Linked DNA regions of Homo sapiens. The protein of the gene in region 4 purifies or fractionates together with the protein of the main gene of each other region. This does not show direct contact. Each region holds a gene or a part of one and is shown on either strand. Other genes may lie near its edges.

What was found.
Region 1: the proteins of RNF146 (region 4) and PARP2 purify together in Homo sapiens (affinity purification with mass spectrometry; 6 studies listed by BioGRID and IntAct, with this or other methods). This does not show direct contact.
Region 2: the proteins of RNF146 (region 4) and LIG3 purify together in Homo sapiens (co-immunoprecipitation; 5 studies listed by BioGRID and IntAct, with this or other methods). This does not show direct contact.
Region 3: the proteins of RNF146 (region 4) and CHD1L purify together in Homo sapiens (co-immunoprecipitation; 5 studies listed by BioGRID and IntAct, with this or other methods). This does not show direct contact.

The regions. Positions count from the first base shown.
Region 1 is NC_000014.9:20,339,395-20,346,640, forward strand, and holds the start of PARP2 (poly [ADP-ribose] polymerase 2), read left to right. Parts: upstream 1-4,240; 5' UTR 4,241-4,247; coding exon 4,248-4,293; intron 4,294-5,537; coding exon 5,538-5,693; coding exon of another isoform or gene 5,694-5,732; intron 5,733-5,999; coding exon 6,000-6,070; intron 6,071-7,246. UniProt on the Homo sapiens protein: Poly-ADP-ribosyltransferase that mediates poly-ADP-ribosylation of proteins and plays a key role in DNA repair.
Region 2 is NC_000017.11:34,990,492-34,997,512, reverse strand, and holds part of LIG3 (DNA ligase 3 isoform alpha precursor), read right to left. Parts: intron 6,551-7,021; coding exon 6,399-6,550; intron 5,843-6,398; coding exon 5,676-5,842; intron 5,556-5,675; coding exon 5,478-5,555; intron 4,990-5,477; coding exon 4,821-4,989; intron 3,238-4,820; coding exon 3,082-3,237; intron 1,450-3,081; coding exon 1,318-1,449; intron 940-1,317; coding exon 860-939; intron 1-859. UniProt on the Homo sapiens protein: Isoform 3 functions as a heterodimer with DNA-repair protein XRCC1 in the nucleus and can correct defective DNA strand-break repair and sister chromatid exchange following treatment with ionizing radiation and alkylating agents.
Region 3 is NC_000001.11:147,238,024-147,245,697, forward strand, and holds the start of CHD1L (chromodomain-helicase-DNA-binding protein 1-like), read left to right. Parts: upstream 1-4,660; 5' UTR 4,661-4,680; coding exon 4,681-4,807; intron 4,808-5,116; exon of another isoform or gene 5,117-5,167; intron 5,168-7,674. UniProt on the Homo sapiens protein: ATP-dependent chromatin remodeler that mediates chromatin-remodeling following DNA damage.
Region 4 is NC_000006.12:127,262,056-127,269,869, reverse strand, and holds the start of RNF146 (E3 ubiquitin-protein ligase RNF146), read right to left. Parts: upstream 3,007-7,814; 5' UTR 2,945-3,006; exon of another isoform or gene 2,775-2,944; intron 1-2,774. UniProt on the Homo sapiens protein: E3 ubiquitin-protein ligase that specifically binds poly-ADP-ribosylated (PARsylated) proteins and mediates their ubiquitination and subsequent degradation. May regulate many important biological processes, such as cell survival and DNA damage response.

The DNA.
Region 1 (7,246 bases), on a different chromosome or scaffold from region 4:
TTATTTTTTAGACAGGGTCTTACCCTATTGCCCACACTGGAGTGAAGCAGGGGAATTGCTTGAAACCCGGAGGCAGAGGTTGCAGTGAGCTGAGATCACACCACTGCACTCCATCTGTAAAAATAAAGTAATTCTAGATAACGTGATGTCTTATCAGAAAATACTATAGCATGCTTTTTTTAAAGAACTTTTTTTTTCCTTTTGAGAAAGGGTCTTACTCTATCACCCAGGCTGGAGTACAGTGGCATGATCACAGCTCACAGCAGCCTTGACCTCTCAGGCTCAAGTGATAAATTATACAGCTAATTTTTGCACTTTTTGTAGAGTCGGGTTTCGCCATGTTGACCAGGCTGGTCTTGAACTCCTGGGCTCAAGCAATCCTCCTGCCTGAAGTTCTGACTGCTGAGATTACAGGCATGAGCCCCCACACCTACCCTAAAGGACATTTTAAAATCATAACTAGAATATCATTATTTTAAACCTAACTAGAATACCATTATAATATCTAATAAATAATTCCCTAAAATCATCCAATTTCCAGTCCATATCCACATATCCCCATTTATTGCTGGCTTGTTCAAACCAGCATCCAAACATTGCATTTGGCTGTTAGGCTTCAAATGTCTCTTTTACTCTAAAACAGTCCTAACAATTTTTTTTTTACATAATAGTATGAAGAGAGTAGGCCAGTTGTCCTGTCGAATATTAATTTGTATTTTTCATACTATGTGAGCCTGAATATCTTTTCCATGCACTTATTTATCAAATGCAAACTGTTTATTAATATCTTTCATCCACTTATCTATAGAGGTTTTGGTTTTAATTATGAAAATAAATTTGTTGGTTTCTTCCAGGCTTTTTTTGTTTTTGTTTTTCAGACAGAGTCTCGCTCTCGTCACCTAGGCTGGAGTGCAGTGGTGCGATCTTGGCTCACTGCAACCTCCGCCTCCCCAGTTCAAGCTTCTCCTGCCTCAGCCTCCTGAGTAGCTAGGATTACAGGCACCCACCACCATGCCCAGCTAATTTTGTGCTAGAGAGGGGGTTTCACCATGTTGGCCAGGCTGGTCTCGAACTCCTCACCTCAGGTGATCCGCCTGCCTTGGCCTCCCAAAGAGGTGGGATTACAGGCATGAGCCACCGCACCCAGCCGGTTTCTTCCAGTTATTGGTGACATGCTTCAGTACTATTTTAGTTACACTTGTTCTGTATTTGACTATAAAGAAGTTATATCTTCACAATATATTTTCAGTAATTCTCACTCTGACCACCATAATAACTAAAAAAGAAAAAGAATCAATAAAAACTTTAAAAATACATTTTTAAAAATGTGTGTGGGATGGTAACTACTGTCATGAAACAGAATACATTAGCCTAGTAGATAACAACATAATTTGGAGTCACCCAGATCTGGCCCTGCCTTTTAGGAACTGTATATTATGAGCTGAATTGTGTCACCTCAAAATGTATGTATTTGAAGAACTCTCATTATCTCAGAATCTGCCTGTATTTGGAGATAGGACATGTAAAGGGGTAATTAAGATAAAATAAGGTCATACGGGTTGGGAATAATCCAATATCACTGATGTCCTTATAAGAAAAGGAGATTAAGGGCCAGGCACCGTGGCTCACGCCTATAATCCCAGCATTTTGGGAGGCTGAGGCGGGTGGATCACTTGAGGTCAGGAGTTTGAGACCAGCCTGGCCAACATGGTGAAACCCTGTCTCTAATAAAAATACAAAAATTAGCCAGGTGTGGTAGCCCACGCCTATAGTCCCAGCTACTCAGGGGACTGAGGCAGGAGAATCGCTCAAGAACCTGGGAGGTGGAGGTTGCAGTGAGCCGAGATCTTGCCACTGCACTCCAGCCTGGGCAACAGAGCAAGACTCTGTCTCAAAAAATAAATAAATAAATAAAATAAAGGAGATTAGGACATAGATGCACAGAGAGGAAAGACAGCATCCATCTACAAGCCAAGGAGAGAGGGAGGCAGGCCTTAGAAGAAATCAGCCATGTCAAGACCTTTACCTTGGGCCTCTAGCCGCCAGAATTACGACAATGTATGTAGTTATAGCAGCCCTAGCAATACACTGTGTGATCTTGAATAAATTAAATTTTTCTAAAGCTCAGTTTCCTCAACTATAAATGGAGATAATAACATATGCCTCATGAGGTTGTTGTGAGAATTAAATAATGTATGTAAAGCTCATAGCATAGTAAGAACTAAATAAATTCTGGCTATTATTCTTATGAAGATTAAATGAGGTTATGCATGTAAAGCATTAGCTCAGCCTCTAGTACACAAGAAAGTTCTACTAAGTATTAGCTATTTTTAATAAATTTTCATTTCATAAAGGCTTATATTTTTCCTATCTCCAAAGTATTTCCTTTTAGACCTAGTCTAATTTATTTGTGTCATAATTAAGTCAGATGTAACAGGCTTTGTACCGCTGAAACAGGTTAAGCAATCCTATCCAACAACATTTATTGAGCACTTACATTTTGTTAGATTTATTTCCAACTACTTGATATGCTTTGGTGTTATTGTAAATGCTACCTTATCCAAAAATTTTATTTATAGTTGTTTGAAGCTCTTTTATAAGCATGGAATTTATTTTCACACGCTATTTTCTATCAGTCTTGCTAGGCTTTGTATTAAGGTAAAATTTTTATCCTGTAGTTTCTTCTAGCTTTTAAAATATTCATAATCAAATTACATGCAAATAATGAGATTTTGGGTTTTTTCTTTCTAAACTTTACATCTTTTGATGAACAAAAATTAAAATGTATCAATTTTTTTTTCTTTGTTTTTTTCAGACGGAGTCTCACTCTGTCACCCAGGCTGGAGTTCAGTGGCGGGATCTCGGCTCACTGCAACCTCCGCCTCCCGGGTTCAAGCGACTCTCGTGCCTCAGCCTCCCAAGTAGCTGGGATTACAGGCGCCCGCGACCACGCCTGGCTAATTTTTCACTTTTTTTTTTTTTTTTTTTGTAATAGAGACGAGGTTTCGCTATTTTGCTCAGGTTGCTCTATAACAGATACTATGCTATCCTAACAATATGTTTCTAAATGATATTAGTGCCAAAACCAGGATTACCCAGTGATTTTGTTAATACAGGCTTATTGAATCGGAGGGTCTGGGGTGGGGAATTTGCTTAAGTATGCAGTCCCCATACTCGGTGATTCTCATGAAGCCAAACATTTGGGCGCCCCTCACCTGATGTCACCAAGAACCAGAAGACCAATTAGAATTTTCGTGGGCTTCCTGCCCCATGGTTCCCTCTGTTCCCAAAGGGTTTCTGCAGTTTCACGGAGCTTTTCACATTCCACTCGGTTTTTTTTTTTTTGAGACTCGCTCTGTCGCCCAGGCTGGAATGCAGTGGCGCGATCTCGGCTCACTGCAAGCTCCGCCTCCCGGGTTCACGCCATTCTGCTTCAGCCTCCCAAGTAGCTGGGATTATAGGCGCCCGCCACCACGCCCGGCTAATGGCTAATTTTTTGTATTTTTTTTTTTTAGTAGAGATGGGGGGGGGTTTCACCGTGTTAGCCTGGATGGTCTCGACCTCCTGACCTTGTGATCCGCCCGCCTCGGCCTCCCAAAGTGCTGGGATTATAGGCGTGAACCACCGCGCCCGGCCCGGTTTCGTTTTGTTTTTTTTTTTTTTTTTTTTTTCCAAAAATGGGCGGAGGAGAGTAGTCTGAATTGGGTTATGAGGTCCCCTGCGGGGTACCTCACCTCAGCCATTGAACTCACTTCGCTGGCCGTGAGTCTGTTCCAAGCTCCGGCAAAGGAGGCATCCGCCGGGCCCCTCCCCGAAGGGCGGGGTCCACGGCATCTCCTGCCCAGTCTGACCTCGCGCGGAGCCCCGTTCTCTGGGAACTCACCTCCCCGAAGCTCAGGGAGAGCCCTGTTAGGGCCGCCTCTGGCCCTAGTCTCAGACCTTCCCAAGGGACATGGGAGTGGAGTGACAGGACGCACTCAGCTCGTGGCCCCACTGATGAGCTTCCCTCCGCCCTATGGGAAAAAGTGGTCTCATACAGAACTTATAAGATTCCCAAATCCAAAGACATTTCACGTTTATGGTGATTTCCCAGAACACATAGCGACATGCAAATATTGCAGGGCGCCACTCCCCTGTCCCTCACAGCCATCTTCCTGCCAGGGCGCACGCGCGCTGGGTGTTCCCGCCTAGTGACACTGGGCCCGCGATTCCTTGGAGCGGGTTGATGACGTCAGCGTTCGAATTCCATGGCGGCGCGGCGGCGACGGAGCACCGGCGGCGGCAGGGCGAGAGGTTCGGAGCTCAATATCGCGGGACGGCATGCGGGGGGCGGGCAGTCAGAAAGGAACGATGCCACCTACTGTGACCCCCTTCCCCTTCCAGCTCCCTATAACCTGCACTTGGCTACCAAACCAGTTGGGGTGCTAAATTTTGTAAATTTCGGTTTTCAGAGCTTTGGGGATTACATAATTGTGCATAAAGCCTTGCGGAGCTGTAACAACTAATGTGCCAGTACTGTTGTTAATACCTAATGTCATCCAATTTACAAAAAGTAATTGTAAGGCACACCATTATTTTATACACAACAAAGGATAAGCACTGAAAATGGTGAACTGTGATTCACTGCTTATGTCATCCATTGTAAGATGCATCCCAGTTCCAGAGAGTAAAATGCGAGTCTTAGACCTATTGAGATACGGTATTATGTGTATAATGTTCTTAAATGCATAGGTGCACCCTATAAATTAGGTTCTATTGTACTTCTCTAGAAGTACAGTATTGTACAATATTCTAATATTGGAGTAAGTGAAGTAGGAAGAGATCAAATACTTCTCCAAGTTTCCACAGAGAAAAGCAGCAGAGCTAGGCTCTAAATTAGGCACAGACCCTTGAGCACTTAACTAACCTTTATCCCATACGGCCTCATGTATGAGGTGGGTATTTGGGGGACATTGGGACACAAGTAAAACAGATAAGCAGGCCTCAATCTATGAGCTTACAAGACTCCTGGGACTCCCTTTTATTTTGTTTTATTTCATTTGGCTAGAATAGCAATTTAGGAAGAATTACACAGACTGTTACACAAAAGTAGTGTGGGACAGTTGTTATTGCCTCTGTAAACTTAGAAAATTATCTTAAACCGGCGGGGTGAGGTGGCTCACGCCTGTAATCCCTTGGGAGGCCGAGGAGGGCAGATCACTTGAGGTCACGAGTTCGAGACCAGCCTGGCCAACATGGTGAAACCCTGTCTCTACTAAAAATACAAAAATTAACTGGGCATGGTGGTGCACGCCTGTAATCCCAGCTACTCAGGAGGCTGAGGCACGAGAATCACTTGAACCCAGGAGGCGGAGGTTGCAGTGAGCCAAGATCGCACCACTGCAGTCCAGCCTGGGCGAGAGAGTGAGACTCCACCTCAAAACAAAAAAAGAGAGAAAATTATCTTAAACCATTTCTTTAAAAGATTTTTTTCAATCTTTAAAATCTACACGTATTCGGGTGTGTACTCATTCTTTGCTAATTTCCAAATTCTGTAGCATTAAATGAAAGCAAAAGAGTTAATAATGGCAACACGGCTCCAGAAGACTCTTCCCCTGCCAAGAAAACTCGTAGATGCCAGAGACAGGAGTCGAAAAAGATGCCTGTGGCTGGAGGAAAAGCTAATAAGGACAGGACAGAAGACAAGCAAGATGGTATGCCAGGAAGGTCATGGGCCAGCAAAAGGGTCTCTGGTAGGAGTGGATCTGGGGATGATATCTTGTTATTTCAACTCCTATTTCGTCCTTCTTTCAGGGAATAATTAATTTCTCTATCCTTTGGGCATACCACAGCACTAATCTACTGCCTTGAATCTTCATTTTCATGTATTTGAGATGGATTGGGGTCTAAGGAAAGACCAGGATTGGTTGGGCGGGCAAAGTTAATCCTGACAAGTTTCTGTTTTACCACAACAGCTGTTTTTGATTCCCATAAAGTAGTACCTATCTGTCTTTCCTCAGAATCTGTGAAGGCCTTGCTGTTAAAGGGCAAAGCTCCTGTGGACCCAGAGTGTACAGCCAAGGTGGGGAAGGTAAGAGACTCTGGAACCGATCTTCAGTCCATGGATATCTCAGAGAGCATCCTTTGTTATAAGGACTCCTGTCTGGGATGCTGTTAGTACTCATTTTAGGAATCCTCTCCAAAATATGATGAGTGAGTAGTTTTCTCTAATGGCAAGAGATAGGAGTGGTAGGGCTTGGGGTTAATAATCAGGGTGTTTTTTAACATGGTGTGTTAGACCATTCTTGCATTGCTGTAAAGAAATACCTGAGACTAGGTATTTTATAAGAAAAGAGGTTCCTAGAGGCTGTACAGGAAGCATAGCAGTATCTGCTCCTCAGGAGACCTTAGGAAACTTTTACTCATGGCAGAAGGTGAAGCGGGAATAGGCACGTCACATGGCAAAAGCAGGGGAGAGAGAGAGAGACAGAGAGAAAGGGAGAGAGAGAGATTGGAGAAGGTGTCACAGAGAGAGAAAGAGAGAATGGGGAGGTGTCACACGCTTTTAAACTACCAAATCTTGTGTGAATTCACTCACTATCAAGAGGACAGCAGCAAGACAGTGGTGCTAAACCATTCATGAGAAATCCACTTCCATGATTGAATCACTTCCCACCAGGCCCCACCTCCAGTACTGAGGATTACAATTCAGCATGAGATTTGGAAGGAGACAAATATACAAACTATATCACATGCGTACCTTTTGTGGTTGCCATCAGCCTTCTACACCTCATTCTCTTTTTAAACCAGAAAATGGTATCATTGTTAAGGGAAAACTGTTTTCTTGTTCTAATGAGAAACTGTACCCTGGAATGGCATGAGTTACTGATGAATGGGGAAAAAAGAAGGCTACCTCTGGAATAAGTTTTCTTTAACTCAGTTAGAATCTTTTTTTTTTTTTTTTTTTTTTTTGAGATAGAGTCTCACTCGGTCACCCAGGCTGGAGTGCAGTGGTGTGATCTCAGCTCACTGCATCCTCCACTTCCTAGGTTCAAGTAATTCTCTTGCCTCAGCCTCCCAAGTAGCTGTGATTACAGGTGCCCACCACCACGCCCAGCCTGGGCTAATTTTTATATTTTTAGTAGAGACGGGGCTTCACCATGTTGGCCAAGCTGGTCTCGAATGCCTGACCTCAAGTGATCTGCCCACCTTAGCCTCCCGAAATGCTGGGATTGCAGGCATGAGCCACCATGCGCAGCCTAACTCA
Region 2 (7,021 bases), on a different chromosome or scaffold from region 4:
TTCCTAGTTCTACTTCATCAAGCGAGCCAAGGGAGAACTGGCCTGTAGCCCAGATTGTATAAATTCTGGTCCCACTTGAAATACGACTCCAACTCTCATTTTTTATCCCCTGCACCCTGCTTTGCCCCGATCCCAAGGCCAACCCCGGGGTAGGCAGGCTGAGACAGGCCTTGGGACCCAAACCCCAAATCCTACCCCCACCAATTCCTTCCCTCTCTACTTCCTTCTCCTTCCCCAATCAAGGATGTGGCTGTTGCAGGAGGAACAGGGGTAGAGATACATTTCTAAGTGAGGAAAGGGCTGATACTGGTTTCTCAGGCACAAGCATATGGATGCAGCTAAGTCAAGACTGCTAATTCTCTCCAAGATGGTCCCACCCATGGCCTCCCCTATAATCCGGAGCTTCCTGTTGTCAGTCTCTTCTGAAATCAAAACCTCTGAGCTGAAAACCATCTGCCTTATGCCCCCAGGGGTGCCACTGGAGCCCCTAGGGGTGCCATTGGAGAAATAAACTGAAACCCCATATGCTCACAGTCTATTTCTCTGCAATAGTCCATTTTGCTTTAGTAGAGAAACTTCTTTGGGGGTTTGGGTTTCTTCTGTGACTTAAGCTCTCAGAGAAGAGATGGAGTCAACACATGGGCTCTTTCTTACACTGAATGGGGAACTGATCATGTAGCAATTGTGCTTCCTCTCAGCTCCCTCTTGCCATTGCCTTTGGCAAGCTCCTGAGCACAAACGTATGTGCCAGCTGGTTCCCTGTACCCTCCTTTCCAACCTGAAGCCCCCATCTTCCTCACCCAGGAAATGAAAACAGATTCCTGGCAGTTTCTGGGTTTAAAGATGCTAGCCAACTCACCTGTCCATCAAGCTGACATCATTAAAGTAGATACAATCAAAAACAAACAGGCAGACATTAGCATCCTGGAAGGCTGCTTTCTGTAAGGGAAAATGAGGTAGTAGGTACACATAGGACAAAAGTCAGTGTGAAAAAATAAGGAGTACCAGTCCACTTCTGGAGGCCCCCTGAGGCACCGGATGAAAAAGTACTATTTCTGCTCTGAAGCCCCTGGGCCATAAGGGCACTGAGCAGATAGTGCTAAATGGAAACCAACCCAGTTATAAACTGGTTCCCAATACCAGCCCCTTTTTAGGAGAAAAACAAAAGACAAAAATCCAAACCAGAAACAGGTCAGAAGCGAAGAATAAGGGCCACACTAAGGGATATTTCCTCCCTTTTCAGACCGCAGCGTGCACCCACATGTACATACTCACTCACACTCATTCATTCTTGCACATATGGCCCTGAGCTAGTACCTTGTGTACTCCCAGAGTCCCAAAGGGCAGTGGTTTGCCTGTCTTGTTGTCAATCAGAAGCACTTCAGAATCCAAGATCATGCTGTGGCCCCCAGGAAAAGCCTGGGGAATGTAGTCCTTAAAGTGGGCCACCTGAAAGCAGAAGGGGAGCTTTGGTGAGGGATGACATGGCAGCAGGGACCTCAAACCATGCCATGGAGGGCAAAGCCCGGGCCCAGACAGGATATAGAACAACATGTGGAAGGCCCAGCTAATGTGCAAAACATATAGCTAGGCCTTGCGAGCCACCTGGACAAGAGGGAGAGGCCATCTGTTTCAGTACTTCTGTCCGGGCCCAGGAAGAGGTCAACCCATGCTGGGTCACTTTCTATGGGCTGTAGAGAAGGTACAATTTTTGAGGAAAATGGAAGAAACAGATTAAACCTGTCGGGGGAGGAGGAGGAGGGTAGGTGGGCAGAGATTAGTGCCTACTGCAGAAGATGTGTGACTATCAGGCTGGGGACTGGATTAGGGGAGAACAGACTACTTGAAACCAGAAAGGTAGAAATGAACTCCCTCAGGTGCAGCAAGGAAACTTGAGCAGTGTCTTCTCTGAGTGGGAGCCCTGAACCCACAGCCATCACTACCCAGGATGCTTAGAGCAGGAACAGGAAAGGCCAGCACATCCATGCCATTCCCCTTCAATCCCTAACCTAGCCCTTTAAGAACCCAAATCACAGGAGAGGCAAAGGATGAGTGAATACTGGGTAAGGGAAAATTAAGGAAAGGACTAAATCTGGAAAAGTGTGCTCAGACTTCTTCCTGGGTCACAGATGGTGTCTATTTAACACCAACCTCACCAGAAACAGCTCCTGAGTGATTTGCAGTGCTTCACAGAACACGTGAACCTGCATTAAAGCTCCACAATGAGGCCACTGCTTAGCCTTCCTCTTGAACATATGAAACAAATGGCCTGACTGCTTTGTTCCCAATGCTCCAGCAGGAAGGCAAGGCTGAGGTAAGCACAGGCCACACAACATGTTCCCCTGAACCCCCTGAGGCTCTGAAAAACTGAGTCTGAGTTAGGAAAGAAAAGGATAGCAAAGATAGGAATTCCATCTGCTCACAAGCTACCGGAGCCAGATGTTCCAGCTGCTTTTCCCTGAAGACACTCCCAAAGGCTCACAGTATCCTTGGGAGTGGAGAAGGGCTAAGGAATAAGGTTCCAAATGCCACCCCTGATTAGAACAGGAATCTAGGCTCCTAGATGTCCCCATAAGACTGTGTTTACATCAGAATGTAAACTTCATGGTGGCCAGAACTTTTGTCCATTTTTTCCACTGCTATATCCCCACCAGCTGTAACAATGGGTAAGCATCTGATAAATAATTGTTGAACAAATTAATGAATGACAGCCCAATAGCCCCTGGTATATAAGCCTTAGTCTAGCTCACAGGAAGCATCTGGGACATGGAAACACAAAAGACACACAGCAACTCACCAACTGAGCTCACTGTCCCAATATCACTGTGGGCAAAAGAAGTATCACTGTTCCAGGGAGCTCTATCCTCACGAACCCAAGTCAGGGCTCTTTGGCTCTCCCTGCTGAGCAGCCCTTCATTATGGGAAGACTCCAAAAATGAATAAATGAATTAATTCATTCAACAAATAAAAAACAAACCCTTATTGTGTACCACAGCTGGAATGGCTATGGGACTCTGGCCCTGAGGTTGTTAGAGGCAGAAAGGGGAAAGACGGTCCTGGCAGAAAGGAAGGCACTCATACCTTGTGAGGAAGGACGGGCTTGAGACTGCGGCTGAAGTAGCTGAAGTGGTCTCCATTCTTATGCACCTGGACTCGCTCTCCATCGTACTTGATCTCAGAGAACATGCCATTGGGACATTTCTTCATTGCATACTCAACGGACTTGCAGGCCTCCGCCTTGGGGTGGGGAAAGCAAAGCCTGGAGACTTTCAATGAGGGGCTGCTAAGCAGCGACAGCCAGAGACCTTGCAACTGGGTTAGTGAGGGTAGTTACCTGGGTCTTGGGACTGACTGCCCACAATTAACGCTCAGGGAAGGCTGGTGAAGAGGTGATGGGAACGGAAAGGGCTGGGCAATGTTGTATTCTGCCTATGAAATAATCACCTGAGCTGACATAGGAGCTTGCCTTTTGAGGAATATGAATGCTATTCATTGTACAACAAGTAAAAGCCCAGTGAAACAAGATTTAATTCTTTTCTCAATAATTCAGGCCTTGCAAGACCTCTGGCTTATTATAAAACACATCAGTTCTCCCAGTAAAAGAGGTATGTGAAGCTAAGGTTAAAGAGTGCAGGTGACAGTGAGGCTGGCAGGGTGAGTGATCGTGGGTCCCTACAACAAACAGGGTTTCCAGATATTGGAGCACCTACTTACATGCCTACCTGTGCTAGCCTAACTCAAACAACAATAGCTACCATTTTGGGAGCGCTTCACATACATAATCTCATTTCATCCCCGATGTGACATCCTATGTGACAAATATTGTTTTCATTTTTGGATGATAAAACTGAAGGTTAGAGAGAATAGGTGCTTGCTTAAGTTACACTAAAAAATGGCAAGAATGAGATTTGAATCTAGGCCCACCTATAAAACCTGTGTGGTTAACCACTAAGCTATATAACCCATGCCAGTCTTTAAATGACAAACTATAGAACAGACTCCAGGAGGCATTTTTATAAAAGTCAGAAAGGCCACTACTGCAGGTGGCCGCAGTCCCATCTCTGGGATGGAGATCTCACTGTTTTGATGCTGGCTATCCCACATTCCTAGCAGGGAGAGAACACTTGCCTATCTCAAACATAAAACCCTAAACCAAGGTTTTAGTATGACAAACAAGACAGTTTCAAAAAAAGCACTGTACATCACTCAAAAATCCAAAGAATCTCACAGTAGGCATGGCACCATATGTGGTGGGCCCTGTCACACAGGAAAACCAACACTGGAAAGGAAACCCCATTTCTTACGAAATGAGCAGAGGCCTAAGATGATGTCTGTCAGAGTCAGCCTTCATTCCTTATGTGTCCTCCCTCTTCCCAAGTCACCCTGTCACAGGAAGCCTGGCTCTGCTACCAACTCTCAGATCTACTTTGCAGTAGGTCACAGAATCTCAGGGGTTACTTAATACATCCGTCTTCAGGTAAGATAACAGATAAATCATTCTAGGGGGATGCCTCAGGCAGTCTCAGACGTCATCCACACAGGAGACTGAAGGACAAGAGAGGCAAGTCACTCATCTAAGATTCTACAGCATCTTGGTGGCGTAGCTGGGCCTACAACTCAGGTCTTTCCACTAGATCCTCTGTCTTCTCCTTTGCCTTCGCCTCCTACAGAGAAATACCCCCTTGCACCTCCCTCTTCCTTCCCTAAACTTCTCCAGTCAATTTGCAAGTGCTCTCAACACTCATACCCTATCTGATCTCAGCCCAAAGGATGTGGAGCTTGGAGAGGCTGGAAAGCAGAGGCAGGGGAGCACTCCTCACCAACATGGGCTGCACAGGTGTCATCAGCGAGGCCTGGACGCTCAGAGCTCGTCTCTGGCCCGGCTCCTTCTCCACCTCCTGCGCGTTGTGAAGGACCCGCTCCACCACATCCTGCAGGTTGCGCGAGGCTTTGAAGGCTTCATAGGCATTGGGGTCAAGGGCGTCTAACCTGCCAAGGGGTACAGGAACAAGGAAACAAAACCACTGCCTTTGTTTGACTCCATGGCTTTGGACAGCAATCTGTCCTCACAGAAGAAATCCTCATCTGTAGGGAAGGGGTTGTGTTCTATTGTCTAAAGACTTTCACAAGAGGAGAGAAAGCTCTTGGAAAATTCAGCTCTTTTGAGATACTGTGCCTATGTGGATGCCGCCTTAGCGAGGAGGGGGCTGGAGTAGGCAAGAGACTCATACTATACTCACTGAACGTATGCCACACTTCAACTGTAAGAACTCTGTGAGAAAGGTACTGTTATCTCCATTTTATATGGGAAAAAATGGAGGCAGAGACAGGTCAAGTGACAGATCAGGGTCTCACAGAAAGTAAGAAGGTGGAAGGGGGATTCAAATCCTGACTGGGACTCAAAAGTCCTGACACCAGTTGGGAACAAACAAAGCTAACAAATGACAGCTCAGGCTGTCAGCGGAGCTGCTACTTACACATGTTTTGCACCTGAGTTCATCTTCAGATCATGTTTGATCAACCTGATGATGCATTTAAGGTCATTGGCTGTACACCTAGGGGGATGAAGCACATTTAACTTGGTCTTGAAGAGCTCTGGAACCCCAAGGGAACCTTCCCTTCCCAAGAGAGTTCATCTCTCTATGGGCATGGTTTGACGGAGGCAGCTCCCCCACCTGGAGGCAATGTCCTGTAGGGCCTGTTGCTGCTCATCCTCCTTGGTGAGCTTGGACAGCCGCAGAAGGAACTCATCCACTTCCTGGATGGTAAGGAGGCTCTTGGCAGCTGGGGGGAAAGACTTGCTCTGCTCAAAGAAGACTCTGATTGTCTCTGACACGTCACCCTGTCTCCAAAAACCAAAATGCCACTGCTGCAACCCTAGGGTGGCCAAGTGTATCCCCCAAGACCCAGGACTGAAGATGAATCAAGAAATTTCAATCATAGCTCCTATCCCAACTCAACATATCTAGCCCACTTCTTAGAGACACTAGCCCATCCACAATTCCTAGAAGGGGATGGAAACTTGCCATGGTACCAGGGATAGAGTCACGGACAAACCAAAGCTTGGTAAAGCCAAGTTATAGGAGAAAACAAGCAAGAAAAAAAGAGTCCAGAATAAAAGCCCCAGGAGAGACAGAGGGGGCAAGTCTCAAATTCTGCCTTTTGAGAACCAGGCCTTTGTGGTTCAGCAGTTGTATGGTTTCCACCCTCAGAAACTTAAGAAATTAAGAGCTATAGCCTCACATTCAGCTCCCCCTATAACGGAAGCTTGCTCAAATGGGTTTCAGTTTCCTAAAACAGTATGTGTCCCAACCAGAAAAAAAAAAAGAGGCTGCAGGTGCCTGGCTTGGCAAAACCCCACCTGGAATGTAGCCTACCCTCCCTCCCGTTCCTCTGACCTGCTCTAGGTCCCGTGCCATATCATCTGGGTTGCAGTTAAAAATGCGACTGAAAAGCTTCACAATCTGCTTATCGTTCAAGTTGTAAACAGTCTTAATGACTCCTGGCAGCAGCAGCTTCACTGTTAGGTACACATCACCGTGGAAACCATCTGGAGACAGAAGGAACCCTTCTTGAGAAATAGAGCTTAAACAAATAAATATATAAACTCAAAGAAGGCTGGGCAAGGTGGCTCACACCTGTAATCTCAGCACTTTGGGAGGCCGAAGCAGGAGAATTGCTTAAGCTCACAAGTTTGAGACCACCCTGGCAACAAAGAAAGACCCCATCTCTACAAAAAATTAAAAAATTAGCTGGACATGGTGGCATATGCCTATGGTTCCAGCTACTTGCAGGAGAAGACAGGAGGGTTGCTTTAGCTCAGGAGGTCGAGGCTATAGTGAGCTGTGATCACACCACTGTACTCCAGCCTGGGCGACAGAGCAAGACACTGTCTCACACACACACACAAAAATAAATAAAAAAATAAACTCAGACCGCGCATGGTGGCTCACGCCTGTGATCCCAGCACTTTAGCAGGTTGAGGTAGGCAGATTAATTGAATCCAGGAGTTTGAGACCAA
Region 3 (7,674 bases), on a different chromosome or scaffold from region 4:
ACTTTTTTTCTATACTTCTATACTGTGGTATATTTTCCCTGGCTTTCTGGGTTCTAAATTTATTACATGTTATTTCATGACAAAGAGGTATACTGGCATCAAAAGTCAAAACACAGTTTTTCATTTCTTGCAAGAAAGAAAACCCAAGTTAAGTGTTTTTCATCCCAGCACAAAAATCTTCCACCCATGGGCACGGACCTAATTCTAACCTAAGCTCAAAGTTCCAAGTTCATTTACTCAAGAGGTCTGAATAAATGTTTACTTTGGTCACAGCTTTTATCCAATTTCCGTATCTGACTCACTAGGTGCTTCTAACTGGTGCCCTGATGTTACCTAACAGAGCAAGGATACAACAAACAGCAAACATAATTTGTTTCTTAATCTGTGCTTAATCCATGCTTGTTTTGGTAATGTCTGCACATGCTAAGTCCCACTGACAGTGTTAGTTGGTTAGCATTAATCTTATGGAGTTGCTGTTGCCAAAGGACATATCCTTTCTGTGGAGGAATAAAACAATTAACAAAAACAGCATGATTGTATAACCTGAACAATGAATGAAAAATGAGTTGAGGCTAAATTTTATTCTGGGAGTTAATCACGACTCACAGAAAACACTGGACCAGCTTCCTAAACTTTCTGTGCCTTGGTTTGCCCATCTGTGAAATGCACTCTCTGTACTTCAAAGTTATAACAATCATATGCCCTAGATTTTAAAATTGTTCCACAGGCACCTCATTCAAACATTCAACAATATTTATTGAGGGCATACTATTGTAATGCCTAACCTTGTTTTTACTAACCCTGTTTTTAGATTCTCTCTTTCCTTTAATCACCTAGCCTTGTTTCCACCTGAATTGACTGTCCCTTAGCTAAGAGAGCCAGACAGACTTCATCTTGGCTCTTTCACTGGCAGCCCCTTCCTCAAAGACATAACTTGTGCAAGCTGACTCCCAGAACATCCAAGAATTCAATTAACTGATAAAATACTGTGGCGAGCAATATCCGCAGTTCCCAGGAATTCGTCCAATTGATAACGCCCAAAGCCCCACGTCTATCAGTTTGTAAGAGTCTTAAAGCCCCTGCACCTAGAACTGTTTACTTTCTGGTAATCATTTATCCTTTTAACTTTCTGCCTACTTTACTTCTGGAAAATTGTTTTAACTAGACCCCCCCTCCCCTTTCTAAACCAAAGTATAAAAGAAAATCTAGCCCCTTCTTCAGGGCCAAGAGAACTTTGAGCGTTAGCCATCTCTCAGCCGCTGGCTAAATAAACAGACTCTTAATTCGTCTCAAAGTGTGGCGTTCTCTCTAACTCGCTCAAGTACAACACTATGTGCCCAGCACTGTTTGTACAAATCCAACACATCCCACCAGTTGCTCGGGCCACATCCCTGAACCCAACCTTTGCTTCTTCATTTCTCCCAGATGCTCAATCAGTGAATCCTATAGGCTCTATCTTTTCAATAGATCTAGTAGCAGACCACTACTCACCACTCCACTATCACCATGCTGGCCCCAAAACTATCAACTCTTGCCCAGACTACTGCAATAGTTTCCAAACTGCCTCCTTCCTTCCATCCTGATCATCTACAGATCTCTTCATACAGTATTCAGAGCAAAACTTTTCTATGTGTCACCTCACTGGCAGACCTGGAGTCTCTCAGCTACCTTTCTTAGCTGTATTTTAGGTACCAGACTTAGTATACCAACAGTCTACCTGGCTTATAGCTAGGACTCTATCATCTGGTATTCTGTTACAACAAATGTACTTTAAGTTAAAAATAATAAACAGGCTTATATTTAAGTGGCAAGTGCTTGATATGGCTGCTTTAGCAGATAAGTCTACTGGTAGAATCTAGAGGAGAGGAAATAAGTCATACATGGAGACCAAGATGCAAAAACCACTCATGAGCAGCCACATAGGACAGAGGTCCCTCTGGAGAAGCCACCAAAGGATATAAATCTCTCTTCAGGTTTGTTTTGAGAAAACACCCAAGCAGGAAAGCTGCTGTACAAAATTACTATTGCCCCATTATGCGATTGTGTTTTACTTTTGTCTTAGCATTAATCCTACCTTGTGGGGAAAAGAAAGAGAGCTCAGACTGCTACTGTGTCTGTGTAGAAAGAAGTAGAAATAAGAGACTCCATTTTGGTCTGTTCTAAGAAAAATTCTTCTGCCTTGAGATGCTGTTAATCTGTAACCCTACCCCCAACCCTGTGCTCCCTGAAACATGGGCTGTGTCCACTCAAGGTTAAATGGATTCAGGGCTGTGCAGGATGTGCTTTGTTAAACAAATGCTTGAAGGCAGCATGCTTGTTAAGAGTCCACTCCCTAATCTCAAGTACCCAGAGACACAATACACTGCGGAAGGCCGCAGGGACCTCTGCCTAGGAAAGCCAGTTATTGTCCAAGGTTTCTCCCCATGTGATAGCCTGAAATATGGCCTTGTGGGAAGGGAAAGACCTGACCGTCCCCCAGCCTGACACCCATAAAGGGTCTGTGCTGAGGAGGATTAGTAAAAGAGAAAGGAAGGCCTCTTTGCAGTTGAGATAAGAGGAAGGCATCTGTCTCCTGCTCATCCCTGGGCAATGGAATGTCTCGGTGTAAAACCCGATTGTATATTCCATTGACTGAGATAGGAGAAAACCACCTTAGGCCTGGAGGTGGGACATGTGGGCAGCAATACTGCTCTTTAAGGCATTGAGATGTTTATGTGTATGCACATCAAAAGCACAGGACTTTTTTCTTTACCTTGTTTATGATGCAGAGACATTTGTTCACATGTTTTCATGCTGACCGTCTCTCCACTATTACCCTATTGTCCTGCCACATCCCACTCTCTGAGAAATGCCCGATAATGATCAATAAATACTAAGGGAACTGAGGCTGGTGCCAGCGCAGGTCCTCTGTATGCTGAGCGCCGGTTCCCTGGGCCCACTTTTCTTTCTCTATACTTTGTCTCTGTGTCTCTTTTTTTTCTTAAGTCTCTCATTCCACCCGACGAGAAATACCCACAAGTGTGGAGGGGCAGGCCACCCCTTCACTACCTGATTTTTATTTATTGCTTGTCTCCTCCTTTTAAAATGTAAGATCCAGGAGATAAGTGGCCTCTATCTTCAGTACCATAGAGTGCTTGGCACATAGTATGTAATTCAGTCAGTGTCAGGCCTCTGAGCCCAAGCTAAGCCATCATATCCCCTGTGACCTGCACGTACACATCCAGATGGCTGGTTCCTGCCTTAACTGATGACATTCCACCACAAAAGAAGTTTAAATGGCCCGTCTTTGCCTTAAGTAATGACATTACCTTGTGAAAGTCCTTTTCCTGGTTCATCCTGGCTCAAAAAGCTCCCCTACCGAGCACCTTGTGACCTCTCACTCCTGCCCGCCACAGAACAAACCCCCTTTGACTGTAATTTTCCTTTACCTACCCAAATCTTATAAAACGACCCCACCCCTATCTCCCTTCGCTGACTCTTTTCGGACTCAGCCCACCTGCACCCAGGTGAAATAAACAGCTTTATTGCTCACACAAAGCCTGTTTGGTGGTCTCTTCACACGGACGCGCATGAAAGTCAGTATTTATGAATGACTCAAGACACAAAAATAGCTTCATAAAACAGTGCTTTGCTTGAGTTTTTATGAATAAACCAATCTGAAGTCATCCCTTTTCTAGCTCAGAACAAATTTCTCCCTTTTATTTTAGAGGAAGATGAGAATGGAGGGTACAAATTTAACATGAGTTTACTGAAGAAGGAAGCACCAAGATTAACCTAAATGAGAATACTATTCTAATGACATTAGCCAGAGAATAATATCGTTCCTGTTCCAGTACTGCCAATTACCATTACAAGTCCCAATATCTTCATTTACAATGTGGGGACAATTATAACACCTAATTATTGGTTATTGTGAAGGTTAAATAAGAAAATATACTTAAAGCCCTTAGGACACCACCCAGAACTTCATCAATAAATGCAGCTATTTTGTTATTATCATATTTATATTAGTGGTATACTACATCATAAATCCACTCAAAGCTGATGCTGAGTCACGGTGACCCCTAACTGAACACATTGCCTCAATCTGCTCCCCATAATGCACTTGAGATACCCACTGCCACAATGACGTCTTTGGTGATTTTAATTTACTACTATTCAGAGGTTCCCAATTTTGGCCTACAGGTCACAGGCAGTAAGAAAGGGATTTCAGGGACTAAATCAATTTATCACTAGGTAAACCGAACAAGAACAGTTTGATCTTATCGTGAATCACTGGAGGGCACGGAACAAGTCTTACTTCTAGAACCCCCAGGGCCCAGCGGAGTGTCTGACACATGATAGTCGATGTTGATTAAATAATAAATGAATGATGAACACATGCCACCTCCTTGACGGGCAGTTCAGGCAATCAGACGTCCTGTGCGTGATCAGACGCCTAGCGCTTCAGAAGCACGACTGGTGAGAACTGGGCAGCCCTTCCACGCTCCGCACTGCAAGAACTGCCTGTCCGGAAGGGTGACTGCACCAGCTCCGCTCCGGATATCTTGGCAGGACGCGCCCTCTGGCGGCGCCTCGCTCGTAGGTGGGCCCCAGCGCGCAGTCGCGCGCCCCCGCGCGTTGGGAAGTTGGGAGGGAGGTGCGCGCTTGGCCGCGCGGGGCGGGGCCTCTACCGGCCCGATGGAGCGCGCGGGCGCTACTAGCCGCGGGGGCCAAGCCCCTGGCTTCTTACTGCGGCTTCATACTGAGGGCCGAGCCGAGGCGGCGCGGGTGCAGGAGCAGGACTTACGGCAGTGGGGGCTGACAGGTGAGCGGGCTCCGGGCGGACTTCGGCCAGGCGGGCCAACCTATTGGGACTGCCTCTTGCGGGCCGGGGGCGCAGCGGGTGGGCCGCCCGGTGGGCAGTTTACCCGCTCGCGCCAGGGCCTTCCTTCGCTCCTGCCGTGGGCGGAGAGAAACTGCGCCCGGGCTTGGTGGCCACGGCCCCCGCCTGCGCGGCGCGCGGGGCCGGCGGACGCCAGATGAATGAGGTCGCGGGCCCGGTAGCCAGGCCTGGCCCCTGGCCTGTGGAGGGGAAACGTGGTGAGATCAGCGCCACCTGCAGGCCTCCGCTGAAGAGTTGGACGGCCTGGTGCACCAAGGATGTAGGTTTCCAGTTGCTGTTCCGGTGGGTTTGGGTCCCGGCCTGGGGAGTTTATTGGTTGCTTCTGTAAAACGATCAACTCATCTCCCAGCTTCAGCTTCTCCGTTTACTGTGCGCGCGCAGTTATTGGAGAATTCGCCACGGATTAATTCTCCGGATCGAGTTACGTGCGGTAGTGAGCGGACAAACTCAAGCAAAGCACTGTTTATGAAGCTATTTTTGTGTCTTGAGTCATTCATAAATACTGACTGAACCACGTACTATATGCCAACTTAGCTTGTCCGCTCACCACCGCACGTAACTCGATTTATTGACACTAGCCCTTACGGAGAGTCTGCAAAGCGCGAACCTTGCATGCCCCCCAGCCCTGCCGCTGCATGGCTGACCGTACTTCCTGCAGCTCCGAGACCCCGCTCTCCTCCTGGGTCTGCGCTGACTCGCCGCTGAACCGCCCCAGCCTCGTTTTCCTTACTTATAAGTTGGGAACGTAGTGTGTGCTTTGACTGTATTGACAGAATCATGCATCAGTAATAATACAGTCGTTTATTCATTACTTATTGAATGCTACTGGGAGCGTATTCTTAGGCATTGGCTACAAAGATGAGCAAAACAAATAGGGACCCTTCCTACCTAGAGTTTTAGACTAGTGAGAGTGCATTTAAAAGTATAAACTAATTTATTTAAGTGCTCAGTACCACGAAAGAGTAAGGTTTGTCATTCTAGGAATGAAACAAAAGGTGCAATTCTGTGTTCAGCTTAGAAGACTGAAAGATGAAGTTGAATGGAGAGGACGCTGACATGAAAGAGAAAGACCTCTCTCCTTGATTCCCTGAGTCTGTAAGAATGTGTGGCTGTAAGGAGTATGTATCCAGTTTTAAGTATGAGCTTGTAGACTGGTCTTTTTATGTTTGACTTTATCTTAACGAAAGTTTATGTTTGTGGGTTTGCCTATTTCCTTGCAAGTGTTGGGAATGGTTCTTTAAGAACTTGTGTGAGAGAGGGCTCAGAAAAGTGTGCCAGTTGATACTTAGCTGTGGATAATATGCCAGGAGAAACGTACATATGGGCAAGTGTTTTAGTGAAAATGAGGAGACAAGAGGTTGCAAGTTTGAGTGGATGGAATGGAGTGAGTAAATTCAGAATTAAGTAGGCAAATGTGGCAACTTGGATAAATTGGTAGTGGAGAAGGAAAATAGAAAAGCAGAGTCAAAGGAATGGCTACTGAATATTATAACTTGTAATTTCTATTTCTGTTTACCAGAATAAACTAGTGTTATGAGAAACTATTCTTCATGAGTTGGTTAAAAAAATTCTTACTACTTTTTTTTCGTTTGGTTACAGAAGTAGTACGTATTTTCAGTAAAACATTCAGGGAAATAGCCTATGCATAAAGAAAATAAATATTAATCTCCATAATCTCCTTACTGTTAACATGTTCTCTATCCTGTATAATTTCTTTTACTTTCTGGTGGAGGGGGAAGGTGAAAAATGGAGTTTCATGTACATTTTTTTGGGAAATCATAACTTTTTTTCCTTATCATTCAGTCTTCTTCAACATCATTCTTAATGGTTACAGTTTTTCAGTATATGGATGTACCATAGTTTAGACAGTCCCTCTTCTTGGTATTTAGGTTCTTTTTTTTGCTATTGTAAGTAACATAAATATCCTTGTAACCAAATATTTATTATAGGTATGGACGTTTAATTCCTGAAAGGTACCATTTCTAGAATAAAGAGTATGCAAAATTTTTGCTTATTTCTCTATACTCTCAGCAACACTGGTATTTTCTAATTTGAGAAGTTAATATGCTATCGTATTGTTTAATTTAATGTTTATTTGGTTACCAATATTGATGGACATTTGGATATTCATCTTTGGATCATGAAGTTACCTTAGGACCTTTTTGTTTCTGGAATATGCAGACCTATTACTTCTTGCTGTTTTGCTTGCTTTTTCACTACTTGTCATCTCCCTGACAGAAGGGCAAAAGAATCTACATCTGGAGGTTAAAAAGCTAAAGACTACCTTTCCCAGACCCCACTGTAGTTTGGTTGTAAACGTGACTTGGCTTTAGCCAGGCACGTGACTGGGAGATTTGGAAGGGGAAAGTGAGGGGAAGGACACAGAGGGGTTTGGATTTTCCGCTTCCCACTTAGCTACTACCTCATGGGTCTGTGGGAGGGTACAGAGCATTCATTTTGTTATCATGGATTGTGGCTGCGTTGATAGGTCCCTGGGGCTGACAGTACCGTGGCCTCCTGGTTGGTTCCTGGCTTCCAGGTCGTGGAGGTAGATACTTCCTTGGTGTGTCCATACTGTGGTGCTTGATTTAGCAGTTGTACCCAGAAGATCAGCCTAGATGTTACTCCTCCAGGCCTTTCGACAATTTTGTGGTGATCTAATTCCCTGTATTACATTCCTTTCTGCCTAACCTACCAAGGGTAATTTCTGGTTTTTGCTGTTGACTCCTAAGTGTTAAGTATTGTTATCTTTGTGGATATAATTACATATTATTTTTGAAAATTCAACT
Region 4 (7,814 bases):
GAAATCACTCAGTGACAGAAAGAAAAAATACTTGAAATGTTCCAACTTTTGGTACACAACTCAAAAAAAATTATATATACATAAAAGGAGTAGATAAATCAGGTGTGAGTTAGCAGACACATCTTAGTATTTTTTATAAACCAGTCACAAATTGAGAGATGTAACTAAATGCCCTAATGTCTCAATTTTTAGCCCTCATCATCTCCTGCTAAAAATTAGCTAAGAAAAAGCATAGGTCATACTTGGAAACTTCAGACAAAACTCATTTCAACTAAATGGGGTCTGATACTTTAAAGAATTATTTCCCTTTAAGACGTTACTATGTGGCAGTCTACTTACTGCCTTCACAATCTTTATACTAGCCCATTAAACCCTTTAATTTTTCTCAAAACAACAAAAAAGTGAGCTTTGCATTTTATTTCAAAACATGAGATGTAAAAGTGAACGAATATTGTCTTTTAATCATATCACACACAGATGTTTCTTAGCCAGCAACCATTTCATAAATAAGAAAGCTCTTTGGCAAATTATCTGTGTGACCTTGGTCAAGTCATAACCCCCAGTCTTTTGTTATCTCATCCTACTCTATAATTCTGTAATTCTAAGTTCTAAATGCTTTAATTAGCAGTCCGTTAACAACATTTTGGATTTGAATTAACCCAAAAGGTAACACGCCATGAAAACTAAAGATAGTCCGTAAGTAAGCACAGGTGGTTGTAGCCAAGTGTTACATAAATTAGTTTCTATATCCACAAAGATGTTGTTTCACAAATTCAGATTCCTCAGGCACAAGGCAACCAAGAGAATGGAAAAGGCTCAGTACCTTCTATTACTAACACGGGAGAAAAATACGCATTCGAATTCCCAACTGTCAGTGCTGTTAGATGTTTCCTGGTAGTATATGGTTAACATATAAAATAATATTCTTTAAAAAGATCGATATTGTGAAAACAAAAGATTTAATATCCTTTTCTTCTTTTGACTCAAAATATCGTTTTGGATCCTTTAAAAAAAAAAGTCTGTTCCTTTCCTCTGACAAGTTAGGTTGGTGGAGACTGAAACAAAACACTTTGTAAGTTGACATCTCCTTTTAAAAGAAGTTATTTCTTTTTTCTTCTCTTGTCTAAAAGACCAGCTATTTGGAGAGAGTTTTCCTGATAATTATAATTCTACCAAGTTCTGAACAACCAGCGAAGAAAAAAAATATTTAAATGTATTTCCAGTCTGCCCACATGATACACTGGCTCATTTGAGACATAAATTCTAAATGAAAGATTGGGCTGAACAACATCCTCCACTTTAAGATATACAAGGCACCAAAACAAACACATCCAAAATCTATTTTTAGAGTGGTGTTCACTCTTCCGGTTTTCTCTTTAAAACGAGATTTAGTTGACCTATTTTCATGTGTTTTTAGGGCACCCAGACACTCTATACAAACAATATTTGCTAATCATAAAACAGCAAAGCCAAAATCACAAATCCTGTTATCTGTGTGGGACATTTTCTCCACGTGTCCTTACGTGCCATGTCTTTGAAAAGTCTAAATATAGATTCACTGACTAAAATGTCCTAAGTCTTCCAAATTCTATAATTATATACTGGATTGAATGCCAATATTATACGTTCACATCCCATTTGAAAAGTACACACACGAGGTGGGGGGGATGTGCCCACTACCTGAAATGCCAATCATACAAAGAACAAAGCGTACCCTATCATCTTTGGGCTTTCTTCTCTCCTCAGTTCTACACTGTTTCGATATTACAAAAATATTAAACAAAATGTTCAAAACTTGAGAAATAAGTGCTCACTAAAATGGCACTTAGAGAAAATAAATTAAAACATATACCAATATGATTAACGAGAAAAGATTCTAGTTGCCAGGATGTGTGTGTAAACTTACAGTCCTGTAGGTTTTACCTGTGGAGAGGACGGTTCCGTCTCCACTCTTAAAACAATTTTACATTCTTTAGAAGCCTTAGCAAAATAAATAGCGACAACAATGGAAGACCCACACTCCTTCAGACGGGATGGAGGGTAGGAAGAGAACTCCCCACCCAACAATCAGAACAAAGCAACAGCCTCAGCTTTTAAGATGCAGAGGGTTTGGAGGCTCAAGGGATATTCTGAGATCTCTTAATTGTTCCGATGCTTCAACAGCCGTCAAAAACAACTAAGAATATGCAGCGCTGGGCTTCACTAGGACAAGGTGCAGGGATTGCTCTCTTCGTTTTAGGCAAGACCGAGACACTGAGCAGGAGAAAAAAAAGGAGGAAGAGCGAGAGAAGAGAAAGCAGCAGCCAGAGACACTCCGGGAAAAGGCAAAAATGCAGACTGTACGCCCTGGCTTCGATCTGACCCAAGGCCCAAACTGTCTGACCCCACACGGGAAAACATGGAGCAGGCTACCGCCGAAAAACCATCGCCGCCCCTACACCTCGAGGCCAGAAGGTCCCCGGGTAAAGGCCTAAAACCACGGCCCAGAGGGGAGGAGAGGGACCCGCCTGCCACCCGAGGCAGCGAAGCGGGCTCAGGCGGAAGAGGCTGCGCAGTAATGGCCGCTGCTCCGCCCCTCGCACCCGGACCGAGACCAGCTCCGGCCGTCACCCAGGGCAGGGGCTGCGGCGCCCTCGGGCAGCGCAGGGGCTGTCACGGTCGTCTTGCCTGCCCCAGCAGCCAAGGCGGGGGTGGCGGAAAGGGCTGAACTGTCCCATCCCGCCTCTGCGCGGACAGCCGGGGCCGCGCCAGCCCAAGGGCGTCCATCTACGTACCGGCCCCTGACCCCGCCGCCGCCCCTCTCAGGCCCCGAGCGCAAGGCCGACCCGGAGTACGTTGCGGCTGGAGGTGACACCGCGAGCTATGCCTCCTCTCCCCGAGTGAGGATCCTAGAGTGGCCGGCGTTCACCCTGCTCCCCCGAGAGGGCCTCGCTCCGACTCCCACCTCTCCGGCCACAGCTGCGGCCACCTCGCAGTCTTTTCTCTCTGGCCTCGGAGCCCGCAGCTGCCGGGAACGCGCGCGGCCGTCACGTGACCACCCGGCGCGTCGCGGAGGAGGGGCCGCGACGCGCCGCGCACCCGCACCCGCACCGGCGAGCTAACTCCGGCGCCTCATCGTTCTGCCCCTGTCTCGCGCCGCTGTCTGCCGGTACTCTCTTGCCTGTGGGGAGCGGCGACTTCGCTGCTTGCATTCTTCTGGCTTCTTTAGAGTGTGCTTGCTTTGTATTAGGGCCCAGAGGCTCTGAAAGAGTGCAGTTCCAACAGAAAGAGATTTGGGGTGGAGGAAGTAAAACGTGTGTAGGACCAGCAGGTGGTGCTGCTCAAAAATCCAGCTTTGCTATCCTGAGGAAGCTCTGGGGCGCCTAGCTGAGTTTCGGCTTAAAGATCCCTTAGCAAAAGTACTGCTTGTTCCCTTTCAAGAAAAAAAATGGGGAGGGGGGGGACGGAGGGGAGAGAGTACTGTAGGACTTTCCAATTTGTTCTCCTTTTTAATGGTTGAGCAATTTAATCGGGGAAAAAATGAGTATTAGTTTTCTTTTGAAACCCCACCCTTTTTTTAAAAAAAACAGAATAGTGCCTGAGAAACTGAAGAAATTAATCTGCATGATAATCTAAAATTAAAGAGGTTATTTTGATCGCAAGCCTGTGGTTTTAAACATCAGAACTCTAGCAGTAATTCACCATTTTAGCATGTACATTTCCTTTTTCAGAACTGATTAAATTTTCCTAATTTGTAGGAAAATGAAGAGGGTGGAAGAGCAGACCTTTTATCTTTAGAAGAGTATGTATTTCAACATTCTATGACAGCGTCTTCTCATTTGCATTAGTGTTGCATTTTGGGATTTCATTAACTGTTTGATTCAGGATTGGAAGTTTTCAGTGTCCTTATAGGTATAGAAATGTATATGTTTTCTGTTATTCCTCTGAAATCAGTTTATTTCAGGGTTCTCATTCATATATATCAATATGTAACCCAATCTCTTGAAGGGTGCATCTAGTTCAGTGATGCTTGCGCGTGTATGCAATACTGTTCCATACATGTAGAAATATTGAAGTGTATATCCTTTAACTTTAAGCTTAGTTTTCTATCTTTATCTTCTTATTAGCCACTCAGTTTTGTCCCTCTATCCTACACAGCCCATGAACAGAGAATAGCTAAAATTTGATATGTACTCGAAGATTCCAGCTTGAAGAGGTAATGCTAATATTAACTAACAATGTGCCAGGTGTTGCTCTAAGTGCTTTATTCATATATACCCACTTAATTCTCATAATAAACTATGAGGTAGGCACTATTATTATTCCCATTTTACAGAGAGAGAGACACACACAGCTGAGATTTGAATCCAGGCACAGACTGTAAGATGTCAGCTAGTTCAACCCCTTCTCACTCATACCCAAGGTCTTTGTATTTCAGTAAATGGTTGCATCTTTCCTTGTTCAAACCCACCTTTAACTCCTCTCTTTTATGTCTTATATGCATTTGGCATATAACCTGTTGGCTCTTCCTTCAAAGTATATCCAACTACTTACCACCTCCGCTACAATCTGCATCATCTCTTGTTTGGATTATAGTGTTACGGTAGACCAGGAACTAGTCTTTTGACTCTATCCTTAATACAGAATCCTAAATAAATCTACTTAAAAAGAAGTGAGATCGTACCACTCCTTTGCTCAAAGTCTCCTGTGGCTTCCCAACACAAGTAAAAACCAAAGTCCTAACGATGGCTTTAAAATCCTCCCCTCATTACCTCTTTGACCCCACAGACTGTTTACCCAGCTTTGTATTCCCAGAAAGCTCTCCACAAGCTGCCAACCTCATAGTCTTTGCAGTTGTGGTTTCCTCTGCTTAGAACACTCTTCCCCATCATGCTCCCTCCATATGTGCTCAGATGTCCAACTCTTCAGTCAGTCCCTCTACTTGTCAGCATATTTTAAGTCATGATGTTTCCATTCCCAATATTTCATATTTCCTCCTTTACTTTTTAATACTTATCACAGTGTAATGGATAATTTATTTTACTTACTAATCTTCATCATATTTCTCATCACATTAGGACGCAAGACACAGGAGGCCAGGAATGTGTGTTCTGTTTTGTATCTCAACTGCCAGGAATAGTGCCTGACACACTTAAAGAGGTTCTCTGTAAATATGTGTTACATGAATGAGTAAATGAATGAATGAATGAATGAATACACACATGGCCGGGCAGTAGCTCACGCCTGTAATCCCAGGACTTTAGGAGGCCGAAGTGGGCGGATCACGAGGTCAGTAGATCAAGACCACCGTGGCTAACACAGTGAAACCCTGTCTCTACTAAAAACACAAAAAAATTAGCTGGGCATGGTGGCACGCGCCTGTAATCCCAGCTACTCGGGAGGCTGAGGCAGGAGAATCGCTTGAACCTGGGAGGCGGAAGTTGCCCGAGATCGTGTCACTGCACTCCAGCCTGCACTGCAACAGAGCAAGACTCCGTCTCAAAAAAACCCCAAAAACCACATTTGTGTATGTGAGTGTGTATATATATCCCCATTTATATATATATATGAATATATATATATCTCCATTTATATATATATATGAATATATCCCCATTTGTATATATATATGAATAAAAGTGAACTTCTCATTTTTCAGTAGTTGCATATGAAAAGCAGAATTGAATGCATGGAATACTATACACCCTACCTCCATCAGCCACTTGAAAGAAAGATAGAAGTTTATATCTTTGAATAACACAGGACAGCACCTCTCAACATTGTCAGAGTGCTGGTTTCCAGTAATTAAGAGTAACTGGTTTCCAGTAATTTTAAGTACCAAAACTTCAAATTATTTGCTTAAATAAATCAGAGCCTAACAGTTTCAATGTATTTCTGTAATAATGTTACTGTCACTGGGATTCCATTTTGCTTCATTGAATCAAAGGTAAAGAAGTTGCAGCTGACTGCTAGGAATTACCCAGTTGCCTGTTTGCTTATAGCTTATTGTCTATTTCCCACAACTTACAAAATACTTTGCTGAATACCACACATCTCCAGGCACCTACTCTTCTCCATTTATCCTTCCAACACTCAAAAATTGTCCAATGTTATTTGTTTTACTTAAGGATCAAAGCATTTTTTTTTGTTTACTTAATATCTGAAGACATCCATGAAAATGCATGAGAAAATGATGTGTTACAATAGAATGTACGTTGAAACCACTCGTGGCTAGTTTAGGGCGGCGGTGTTCCAAGTGTTATCTAGTGACCCATAGGGGTCCTTTGACTCTTGCAGAGTGTCTGAGGGAAAATTGTTCTTATAATAATACTAAGACTCTAGTTGCTTTGTTTACTTGCACTCTCAAATGTACAGTGGAGTTTTCCAGAAGCTACATGGTATGTGATGTAGCAATAGATTGATTATAGAAGCAGATATGAGAATTTGACTATATCTATTAAACCAGTCATTAAAACGATGTAAAAAAAAAAAAAAAGTAAAACTGCACTCTTCTTTCATTCAGTTAGCTTTGTTTTGGAAAATGTAGTGTTTTTTTTTTTAATAAAGTATGTTAATACAATGAGTCATTTTTAAATGAATTAGTATATATTGTAAACCATTCTCAATTTCAACTTTTAATTTGGTAAATATTGATTAGCTCATAAAAGTTTTTTGGGGTCTTCTATAAATTAGCACTGTCAAAGGGTCCTGAGACCAAATAAGAATGCTTGTCTGGGGCTATTTTGCTTACCAACTCTAAGTTAAATTTCTTCCCTTTTCACATGCCGGCAACCATCTGATAGCTGTGGACACAACTTTCTCATATGCCTGGAAACAGAACAAACCAGATTCAGGAATGTACCAGTCATTATAGCTAGCAGATGAATGGAAATCAAACCAAGAGGAAGCTTTGGAAAGCAAACTTTGTTTATTTTAATTAAAAACTTTGTTTCCAGAGCTGATACATAGGTTGGTTTCTGTCCTATCATTTGATGTTCTACTTACAGTAATCAAACAGTATATTATTTTCTAGTAGAACTCCTTTGCAAATAATAGTACACTAGCCAGTTTAGCTTGTGTTTTTCTTTTACCTACTGTGATTATCAATGCTTTCTCTTCTAATGGTTCTTAATGTTCCTGCGTTGCCCACAGACATTACAACTGAATTAGGATAATGTATGGCTAGAAAATAGCCCCAAGAGTCACTGAGTTAAACTTTATAGTTTGACTATAAAGTCAACGATGCATTTATTTCCTAACCTGGTTGTATGTATATAATATGTATTTATTAATTTTTAGATGTCTTATATTGACAGTAGTAGCTCTGATGTCTCCAAAGTCCATGCTTGTTTCATTAAATGACATAACCTTTCATTGACCATAGTATTAAAAGATAAGAATAAATGCTGTATTTTAACAGTGGAGGTTTTTTAAGCTAGCTTATTATTTTAACAAAATAGTCCCTTAAACAATGTACTCCATCACATAAAGGAAATTGCTTAAGGTCATCAAGGCAGCAACTATGTTTTGCAATGTCACATTTTCCTGTATCAGTTTAATATAATTATAACCTAAAAGTTTGAAGTATTTTCACAGAAGTTTGTCAAGCAAGATTCTCTTTGGAAAACAAAAACCACCTTAAGTATTTCAGACAGAGACTCTAATGTAGTGAAATGGTGGTGAAAGTGTTAGAAAACTGGAGGAACCAAAAAAGAAAGATGAAGATACCTTGAAATCAGTAACTGCAGAAAGTCACTGGCTCATCTAAGTTTGGAGGAGCAAAGGGTGTTCTGGGAGCTCCTGGAGGCTGCTAGAGCACTTTTTATGAACTGCTA